3 linked regions of the Homo sapiens genome follow. The main gene of each other region encodes a partner of the protein of the gene in region 3 in a complex. Each region holds a gene or a part of one and is shown on either strand. Other genes may lie near its edges. The genes, in order: BCAS2, SNRNP200 and SNRNP40.

Region 1 (2,434 bases), about 83 Mb from region 3:
GGCCGTGTGGCTCACACATGTAATTCCAACACTTTGGAGGCTGAGGTGGGGAGATTGCTTGAGCCCAGGAGTTCAAGACCAGCCTGGACAACGTGGTGAAACCCTGTCTCTACAAAAAAGTAATGAAAATTAGCCGGGCATGGTGGCTTATGCCTGTAATCCAAGCTACTTTGAAGGCCTGAAGTGGGAGGATCAGTTGAGCCCAGGAGGTTGAGGCTGCCATGATTGCACCACTACACTCCAGCTTGAGCAACAGGAGAGCAAGACTCTGTCCCTCCCCTCCGCAAAAAAAAGCTGGGTACAGTGGCTCACGCCTGTTATCTCAGCACTTTGGGAGGCCGAGGCAGATGGATCACTTGAGGTCAGGAGTTCGAGACCAGCCTGGCCGACATAGTGAAACCCCATCTCTACTAAAAAAAAAAATACAAAAATTAGCAAGGCATGGCAGTACATGCCTGTAATCCCAGCTACTTGGGAGGCTGAGGCAGGAGAATCTCTTGAACCAGGAAGCAGAGGCTGCAGTGAGCTGAGATCTCACCACTTCGCTCCAGCCTGGGCAACAGAACGAGACTGTCTCAAAAAAAAAAAAGTAACCTAAGTACTCCAAGATCAGGCAGGGCATGGTAATCCCAGCAGTTTGGGAGGCCAAGGTGGGAGGATTGCAGCTCCTTGGGAGGCTGAGGCAGGAAGATTACTTGATCATGGGAGGTGAAGGCTGCAGTGAGCCATGATCACACCACTGCATTCCAGCATGAGTGACAGTCCTCGATTATGGAGTGTCCAACATAGTTCTTGGCACAGAGCTCCATAAATATGATTTTTGGCAGAAAAACTTGAAAAAGTTCACTTTTAATTGGTACTATTTTAATGTATTTTAATCTGATTTTCCTCTTTTCCTTCAGAAATCTAGTTCATATGATTGAACACGCACAGAAGGAACTTCAGAAGTTAAGGTAAATTGTTTTTTCCTATTACAGAATGAAGTTTAAGTGAACCTTTAATAAATAGAAAATAGGAGGAAAAAGAAAGCAAAGAGACTGCAGCCAGATGAAAGTAAACAATTGATCCACTCTCTTTGTTCAACATCTGACACTGGGTTTGCCCTACCTAAGTAGAGGAGAAATAGGCCTGAGGTCTGAAAACATCTCTGCCACTTGCAGCTTGCAAGTCTGCAAACATAGAAAGGCACTTTTAGAGTGGGAAAAGTTGCAGAATAACACATATAATCTGATTTTTAAAACCAATTTCTACACACACATATAGGAAAGCCTGGAAGGACACCCAGCAAAAACTCAACAGGAGTTATCAGGAAAAAGGAGACATGCATGAGAGGGGGGACTTGAGACTTGTAATCTGTGTGTGCTTGTGTGTGTGTGTGTGTGTGATTTCTCACAATGAGCATGTTTTATGAAACTTGTAATCAAAAAATAATTAGAAGAAAGGTAATTTCTACAGTTAGCCTATAACTGTACATAATATTGTTCTCATGGGATTAAGATATTCTCTTGTGTTATAGAGTTTTCTGTTGATTTAGGTCTTACATTAAAATGTAATTGGGTTGTATAAATAATTTTTTACAGAAAACATATTCAAGATTTAAACTGGCAGAGAAAGAACATGCAACTCACAGCTGGATCTAAATTGAGAGAAATGGAGTCAAAGTGAGTATCTATAATTCCATCATCTTTTAAATTGTTTAGCCCTTTCTAAGGTCGATTCAATAATATGATTCAAATAGCATTCAAATGGGATGCCACAGGTAACAAAGAAATGCTATTTTCTGAATTCACCCTTCCCCGTCTCTGCCTCTTTATAAGGTGTTAAAGAGAACTATAAACGAGAATTGAACCATTGGCGAAGGATCCTTTGCTAAATTGAACCATTGCTAAAGGATTCTGGTCTTAGAATACCCTGTTTTTAGTCTAGTATTTTTGGCCTTGAATAGAACTCTACCTTTATTCTCCTTTTAAACGGAAAAAAAAAAAAAATAGGCACGGTGGCACATGTCTGTAGTCCCAGCTACTCTGGAGGCTGAGGCAGGAGGATTGCTTAACCTGGAAGGTTGAAGCTGCAGTGAGTCATAATCACACCACTGCACTCCAGCCTGGGCAACAGAGCAAGACCTAGTCTTTAAAAAAAAAAAAAGGAAAAAAATTATTTTATAAAATCTTGTAGGGAGGGAGATTTCATACTTGGTAATTTTTTTGTACCTCAGGTTTATGCATTTTTAAAAATGTTCTTTTACATACACACATGTATACCTTTATACAATATAATCTTGAATATTTGTGTCATTTCTCTCTTCCTTTTTGCTTGGCCATTCCCTTTCTCCCTTCATTACTCAAGTCATTCTTGTTCCACCGTCTCCATGTACGTCTTACCAGTCTCGTTGGTACCCTTTCACGCTTTTTCCTCAATTTAATAAACTATTGCC
Region 2 (3,655 bases), on a different chromosome or scaffold from region 3:
CTTTGCACTGATGGCTGACATGGTGTATGTCACACAGGTGAGAGCGGAGTTGTATGGCAGCTGTGAGAAGGGGCCTGAACAGTTCAATCCCTGTGTGCTGTGTGCATCCTGGGGAAAGGAGGCCCGACCCTAGTGAGATGGGAGGAGTGCTTAGTTCTGCTCTTGCCGGGTAGTTGGTTGGTGCATGTGTGGTACAGCCACTCTGTAGTATACATCTTGAGCACGTGGGAAAGGTAAGACCTTAAGAGGGAATGCTTCGAGGCTCCACGGGCCCTCAGAGAGACAGGAAGAGCCACAGCACGCAGTGTCTGCTTCCCAGCAGCAAAGTGATTTCCCACTGTTGCTGCACAGCTCATAAATAAATCCAAAAATGGCACAGGGTTTTATTAGCTGCTCTTCATCTTTACCTCTAAGAACAGGTCACTGGTACCCTCAACTCTTCCTAGAACTCTAAATGCTAAATGACTCAAAAGCTTTAAAATCATGCAGTGAATGTTAGGTTAAAATGTTGTGCAGTGACCTTGAGCCGCAGCACTCTTCTAATTGTTCCCCATCCGGCAAGCATCTACTATATGGAACGGAGAAAGGCGTAAAGACAGAGGGGACTTTGCCTTTGAGTTAGGGTGGGTGGTTGTGTCAGAGCTGGAGGTAATGAAACCGTGTGTAGAGTGGCTCATGAGGCCTGGGGATAGTCGAGACTTAACAGTGGGAATGCTGCTTCTTTGCTTAGTCGGCTGGCCGGTTGATGCGAGCGATATTTGAAATTGTCCTGAACCGAGGTTGGGCACAGCTTACAGACAAGACCCTGAACCTCTGCAAGATGATCGACAAACGCATGTAAGGACCCAGTGAGCTGGATGCTGGTCACCATGAGTGGGGGTCCCCAACCCAAGGGTCTGATGGGAAAGCCTCAGGGTGCATCTGATCTCCAGACCTGACATCGGAAGTATGACCTGAACCTTGGTGCACATTGAGAAGAGGGAAGGCCCTCTGTGGTGGAGGCCAGGGCTGGCACAGTGTCAGTGTCTGCCTTTAATGACTGTGTTTTGTGTAGTCACTGCTAAACTATTGGAAGCCATGAAGTGGGTGGTTTGTCACATCCCTGCAGAAGGGACCAACAGCTTTGCCTCCTTCCTGGATAGGTGGCAGTCCATGTGTCCTCTGCGCCAGTTCCGGAAACTCCCTGAGGAAGTAGTGAAGAAGATTGAGAAGAAGAATTTCCCCTTTGAGCGTCTGTACGACCTGAATCATAATGAGATTGGTGTGTGGGATGCTCTCGCCCTTGTCCTCACTGCCTGGGTGTCTCTCCCAGTTTGCCTATGTAGTCTTCCTGTTCCTAGGCCTGTGCATTAGTATCCTGTGTTCACTCCCCAAGTCCCACTGAAGTACAGGCTGGCCCTTGGTCTGGGGACTTGGAATCCTGGGCTCCACTGACCATAAAGGGAAGACCCTACCCCTTTCCCACAGTGGCCCTCAGGCCCAGTTTGCAGTATAGTAGGCAGGCTGGGCTGCAGCCTCAGTACTCTCATTTCCTTGTAGGGGAGCTTATCCGCATGCCAAAGATGGGGAAGACCATCCACAAATATGTCCATCTGTTTCCCAAGTTGGAGTTGTCAGTGCACCTGCAGCCTATCACACGCTCCACCCTGAAGGTGGAGCTGACCATCACGCCAGACTTCCAGTGGGATGAAAAGGTGAGGCTTTGCTGGGCAGAGGTGCTGGATTGGAGGTGCTCAGTCTACGTTGCTGGGCCGAGGAGATGGATTGGAGGCACTCAGTCTACGTTGACTCACATTCCTTTTACCCTTGCTCCTGTTGGCAGGTGCATGGTTCATCCGAGGCTTTTTGGATTCTGGTGGAGGATGTGGACAGCGAGGTGATTCTGCACCATGAGTATTTTCTCCTCAAGGCCAAGTACGCCCAGGACGAGCACCTCATTACATTCTTCGTGCCTGTCTTTGAACCGCTGCCCCCTCAGTACTTCATCCGAGTGGTGTCTGACCGCTGGCTCTGTGAGTGTCTCCTCTCCAGAGTCCCCAGGAACAGTCCCTCCAAGGACAGTAGAAGAATGTCTTGCACTTTGTCCCGGGCTTGCCCTTGCTGGGGACAGAGTGATACATATGCTGCCTAGGTTTCCAGTGTTCATGGAGGGGATCTAGAGGCCAGTGAGGGAAAGAGAGCAGTGCTTATATCCTTCCTGTTTCTTTTCTGGCAGCTTGTGAGACCCAGCTGCCTGTCTCCTTCCGGCACCTGATCTTGCCGGAGAAGTACCCCCCTCCAACCGAACTTTTGGACCTGCAGCCCTTGCCCGTGTCTGCTCTGAGAAACAGTGCCTTTGAGAGTCTTTACCAAGATAAATTTCCTTTCTTCAATCCCATCCAGACCCAGGGTAAGTGTTTCCATCCCTCCTCTGGAGGCTTTTGAAGTCACCGGGAGACAGATGTGCTCTGTGGCAGGCAGGGGAGTGGGGGTGCTCAGGCACTTGGGAGGTCTGGGAGCTCCTCAGTGTGACCGCTGGGACCCACCAGGACTTTTTCCTTTGTCAGAAGCCTTTGGTTGCTTTGCTGCTCTGCATGTGTCACTGTGGAGGGGCAATAGAGCAAGGCCTTACATGGCATGGTCATTTCTCGGGCCCAGGAGGCTTAGAGGCCTGCCCCTGGCGCTCAAGTATTGAACCAGAACCATGGGGTGGCACTGAAGCCTCCTCACCACATCATGATAAATAACGGGGACATTCACAGAGCAGGCACTGTTTCCTCAGTCCATGGCTGAGTACATCACCGGTGTTTTCTCTCTTATTCCTCCCATCAAGCCTAAAAGGAATCTCTATTGGAGATACTGCCATTAGTGTTCCTTTTATAGGTGAGGAACTGAGGCATAGAGGGTTCCCCAGTTGAACCAACTGATAAATAGTAGAACTTGGATTTTAATTCAGTCTTGATGCCAGGGATAAGGCTCTTACTTTCTACCTTAGGCTATTTCTAGGAAACGCAGGAGAGTGTTGAAGGGGCAGAGAAAGGGATCCAGTTCCTTTCTGTCCCGCATCCTAGTCCCTGAGAAGCAAAGAAGAATGTGTGGCTTCTTTTGCTTTGCTTTTGTTGTCATCCCACACATCTCCAGGGGACCTGGGCTCTTGATCTTGGCCTCTTCCCCTTTAACTGTTAAGTGGGAGCAGGTAAGGGGGTACAGTAGGGCTGGCCTGGAGTTAGAGGCTTGGATGCCTTAGCTCCTCTGTCTGCACTCCAGAACTGCCTGACTTCATTTCGTATGTTGTCCTTTGTTTTGACAATTGATCCATGTCCCAGTCCGTCTCTTCTTCCTTCTTGATACTTACACTGCTTCTTTCTGTTGGTTTCCAGTGTTTAACACTGTATACAACAGTGACGACAACGTGTTTGTGGGGGCCCCCACGGGCAGCGGGAAGACTATTTGTGCAGAGTTTGCCATCCTGCGAATGCTGCTGCAGAGCTCGGAGGGGCGCTGTGTGTACATCACCCCCATGGAGGCCCTGGCAGAGCAGGTATGACGTGGCGCTGTGTCATGTGAATTTCCCAAGAAGCATTTCATCTGTGATTCCGTATGAAGGCTTTCTAAGCCCTGAAATTTGCAGGGTCATTTCCTCAGTTTGTGTATTAAAGAAAAGCTGCCCCAGCCA
Region 3 (3,655 bases):
CATCAATTGATACATAGCATTGTATACATTTTAAATAAAGCATTAGAAAGCTGGGCCTGGTGGCATGTGCTTATAATCCCAGCTATTTGGGAGGCTGAGGCAGGAGGATTCCTGGAGCCCAAGAGTTCAAAACCAGCCTGGGCAACACAGTGAGACTCCATCTCAAAAAAAATGAAAAAAGAAAGCATTATAAGATCAGTTATAACTTAGAAATCATCCTCAGAGGCTGGGCGTGGTTGCTTACGCCTATAACCCTAGCACTGTAGGAGGCTGAGGCAGGAAGATTGCTTGAGCCCAGTTCAAGACCAGCCTGGGCAACATAGTGAGACCTTGCCTCTACAAATGATTTTTAAAAATTAACTGAGCATGGTGGCACAGACCTGTGGTCCCAGCTACTCAGGAGGCTGAGGTGGGAGGATCACTTGAGCCCAGGAGGTCGAGGCTGCAGTGAGCCATGATTCCAACCCGGGTGACAGAGCAAGATCTCATCTCAAAAAAAAAATGAAAGAAAGAAATTGTCCTCAGAGACAAAAGAAAAACTTTGGTAAAGAGAAAAGATTGGAGTCACTCAGCTGTCAGGTCGGTACCACAGTCTGTCTGATCTCTGCAGCACCAGGGAGTTATTAAACATTTCCAAGTGAGAGGGTGTCTTATGTTTAAAATGTTAGCTATCACAAAAGAGGAAAAGATAGAGCAAACTGCTACATTAGATGTATGTCATGGGGACTCAAAGAAGGGGAATTTTTTAAACTTCACAGGGGTAGATCTTTTATCTGGGCCATCTGGGCCTAGAGGACAAATAGGATTTTGGTAGGGTGAGGCATTCCAGCATCATGGGCAAACTGGCGTAGCACAGCAGGTCAGTGATCTTGAAAAATTTGGCACCTTTTGTCAAGTAGGAAAGATAGATTGTTACTGTTTATCTTCACTTATTTCTTTTTTATTCTTTCTCTTACTTTCTAGTATGCTTTTCTCAGCATCCACAGATAAAACCGTGGCTGTGTGGGATAGTGAAACAGGTGAGAGGGTTAAAAGGCTAAAGGGACATACTTCCTTTGTGAATTCCTGTTATCCAGCCAGGAGAGGCCCTCAGCTTGTCTGCACTGGCAGTGACGATGGCACAGTTAAGGTGGGTATTGTCTCTCCGTGTTCCAGTTTCTGAGGTGATGTGATGTGAACCTTATCTTGCCTTGCCACTTGTACTCTAGCTTCCTGTGCAAAACTTAATTTTAGCAGTCATCTCCCATAACACACTTGAAATTTTTCCCCATTTAAAATAAAACATTTAATACAAGTTTTAATTACCCTACAGAATAATAATAGAACCATAGAATAAATTGTTACTTGAAATAGGCCGGGTGCTGTGGCTTACGCCTGTAATCCCAGCACTTTGGGAGGCCGAGGCGGGTGGATCACGAGGTCAAGAGATCAAGACCATCCTGGCTAACACGGTGAAACCCCGTCTCTACTAAAAATACAAAAAATAAGCCGGGCGTGATGGCGGGCACCTGTAGTTCCAGTTGCTTGGGAGGCTGAGGCAGGAGAATGGTGTGCACCCGGGAGGTGGAGCTTGCAGAGATTGCACCACTGCACTCCAGCCTGGGCGACAGAGCGAGACTCTGTCTCAAAAAAAAGAACTGTGACAGTAATATACGTGTCTTTCAAGGCTGTTATGAGTATCTCCACCAACAGGGAGGTAGCAAAAAAAAAAAAAAGGCTGTTCTGAGATTATAGACAATATATAAAAAGTTCAGTGAATAGTTTTAGTATGGCACAAGATGGGAACTTAAACATCGTTTAGTCAGATGGTTGCCAGCCTATCTTTATATCATCATCACCTGAAGAACCTGTTAAAAATACCCAAAGAATCTGGTTCAGTGGATCTGCAATGGGAATCAGATATTTTAATGTGTCCTTCAAGTGATTCAGTGTAGCCAGTCTCACATTCTGGGAGCCACTGATCTCACTGAGCATCCTCATTTTATAAATAAGGAAACTGAGGCCTAGAAATAATAATTTATCTCAGAGGCACACAAGGACACAGTACATCATAGTACCAACCATTTGATTCTCTCTTTGACACGAATTTTGGGCTCTGGTTTATATTTTAATTGTTAAACAGTGAGGGACTTCAAAAGAGTACATCTGGGAAACTACACCCCCATACTTCTTATTGCTTTTTAAATGAATTAATGAATTTGCTTTTTTTTTTTTTTCTTTGAGACAGGGTCTTGCTCTATCGCCCAGGCTGGAGTGCAGTGGCACAATCTTGGCTCACTGTAGCCTCCACCTCCCGGGTTCAAGTGATTCCCCAGCCTCAGCCTCTTGAGTAGCTGGGATTACAGGTGCACACCACCATACCTGCCTAATTTTTCTATTTTTGGTAGAGATGGGGTTTCACCATGTTGCCCAGGCTGGAGTGCAGTGGCGCAATCTCAGCTCACTGCAACCTCTACCTCCTGGGTTCAAGCAGTTCCCCTGCCTCAGCCTCCCTAGTAGCTGGGACTACAGGGACCCATACCACGCCCAGCTAGTTTTTGTATTTTCAGTAGAGGCAGGGGTTCATCATATTGGCCAGGCTGGTCTCAAACTCCTGACCTTGTGATCCGCCCCCCTCGGCCTCCCAAAGTGCTGGGATTACAGGCGTGAGCCACCACACTTGGCTGAGACGTTTTTCTACTGAGTGGTTTTCTTATACCTAATCACTTGGGGCCCCTTGATGGTTGGATGGGAGGAGAGTCTGTTGTTTAAGATTGGTTTCTAAACCAGAGCTCTGACCTAGATGTCACTGTAGTTGGAGAGTCTTAACAGTAGCTGATTTACTAATTGTCATTTCAGAAGATAGTAAGAGGTGGAAATGCCCCAGTGAATTTTGTTAACATTATTATTGAGGGCCTGCTGTAATAAATATCTAGGAACTATTTAGGTAGTAGAAAAAGAGTATATGTCCTTTCTGTCTGCCTTCTTTTGGTTTTTTGCTTCTCTTCTGCCTTAATTAAACATGATTTGGAATAGTTATTTTTACCTTATTACTCAAGTTAATACTTTTTTTAATAAGCAGTATGTCACATCACCTAAAGATGACTGCTTTTTAACCAGCTCCTATTTTTAATGTCAGTATATTTATATTTAAGGCATCATTAAACAGCTTTTTGCAATGTACTTTTCAGTTACTTGTGAAGTTGGAATGCTTTGTGTTCTTGTATTTTTGTTACTAGGTTGCAAGTACAGGAATTGAATAACTTCAGTTTAAGAGGAAAAAAAGTCATGTTGCTTTTTACATGTCAGAGTTCTTAACAGAAAGCAAAGGTTTCCAACAGCACTTGCATTTTTAGTCTAAAAGCATTCTGGGCATTATTCATACAGATCGTTTTCAAACTTTTTATCAAGTGCATTCTTCTAATAAAATTAAGTGAAATACTGCGTGTATGTGTGTATGTACTCATATATATATAAATTTCCCTTTCATGAGCAGTTCAGTCCTAAAGCCAGTTATATAGGCCAAAGCAGGGAAGGTGCTCTAGTTAGAGATGGGCCAAGGTGGCCCAGAGTAGAGTGTCAGAGCACAAGTGTGGTAAGGAGAGCATCCACACTGGGCAGGGCAGTACATTGTAGGGAGTAGTCAGAGAGTGAGGAAGGCATCCATACAACACAG

The links.
Region 1: SNRNP40 (region 3) and BCAS2 share a complex: the UniProt entries of both Homo sapiens proteins name them as parts of the postcatalytic spliceosome P complex.
Region 2: SNRNP40 (region 3) and SNRNP200 share a complex: the UniProt entries of both Homo sapiens proteins name them as parts of the U4/U6-U5 tri-snRNP complex.

The regions. Positions count from the first base shown.
Region 1 is NC_000001.11:114,569,219-114,571,652, reverse strand, and holds part of BCAS2 (pre-mRNA-splicing factor SPF27), read left to right. Parts: intron 1-902; coding exon 903-953; intron 954-1,580; coding exon 1,581-1,661; intron 1,662-2,434. UniProt on the Homo sapiens protein: Required for pre-mRNA splicing as component of the activated spliceosome. Component of the PRP19-CDC5L complex that forms an integral part of the spliceosome and is required for activating pre-mRNA splicing.
Region 2 is NC_000002.12:96,285,045-96,288,699, reverse strand, and holds part of SNRNP200 (U5 small nuclear ribonucleoprotein 200 kDa helicase), read left to right. Parts: coding exon 1-37; intron 38-730; coding exon 731-837; intron 838-1,142; coding exon 1,143-1,261; intron 1,262-1,539; coding exon 1,540-1,694; intron 1,695-1,822; coding exon 1,823-2,012; intron 2,013-2,215; coding exon 2,216-2,389; intron 2,390-3,359; coding exon 3,360-3,520; intron 3,521-3,655. UniProt on the Homo sapiens protein: Catalyzes the ATP-dependent unwinding of U4/U6 RNA duplices, an essential step in the assembly of a catalytically active spliceosome. Plays a role in pre-mRNA splicing as a core component of precatalytic, catalytic and postcatalytic spliceosomal complexes.
Region 3 is NC_000001.11:31,286,728-31,290,382, reverse strand, and holds part of SNRNP40 (U5 small nuclear ribonucleoprotein 40 kDa protein), read left to right. Parts: intron 1-963; coding exon 964-1,129; intron 1,130-3,655. UniProt on the Homo sapiens protein: Required for pre-mRNA splicing as component of the activated spliceosome. Component of the U5 small nuclear ribonucleoprotein (snRNP) complex and the U4/U6-U5 tri-snRNP complex, building blocks of the spliceosome.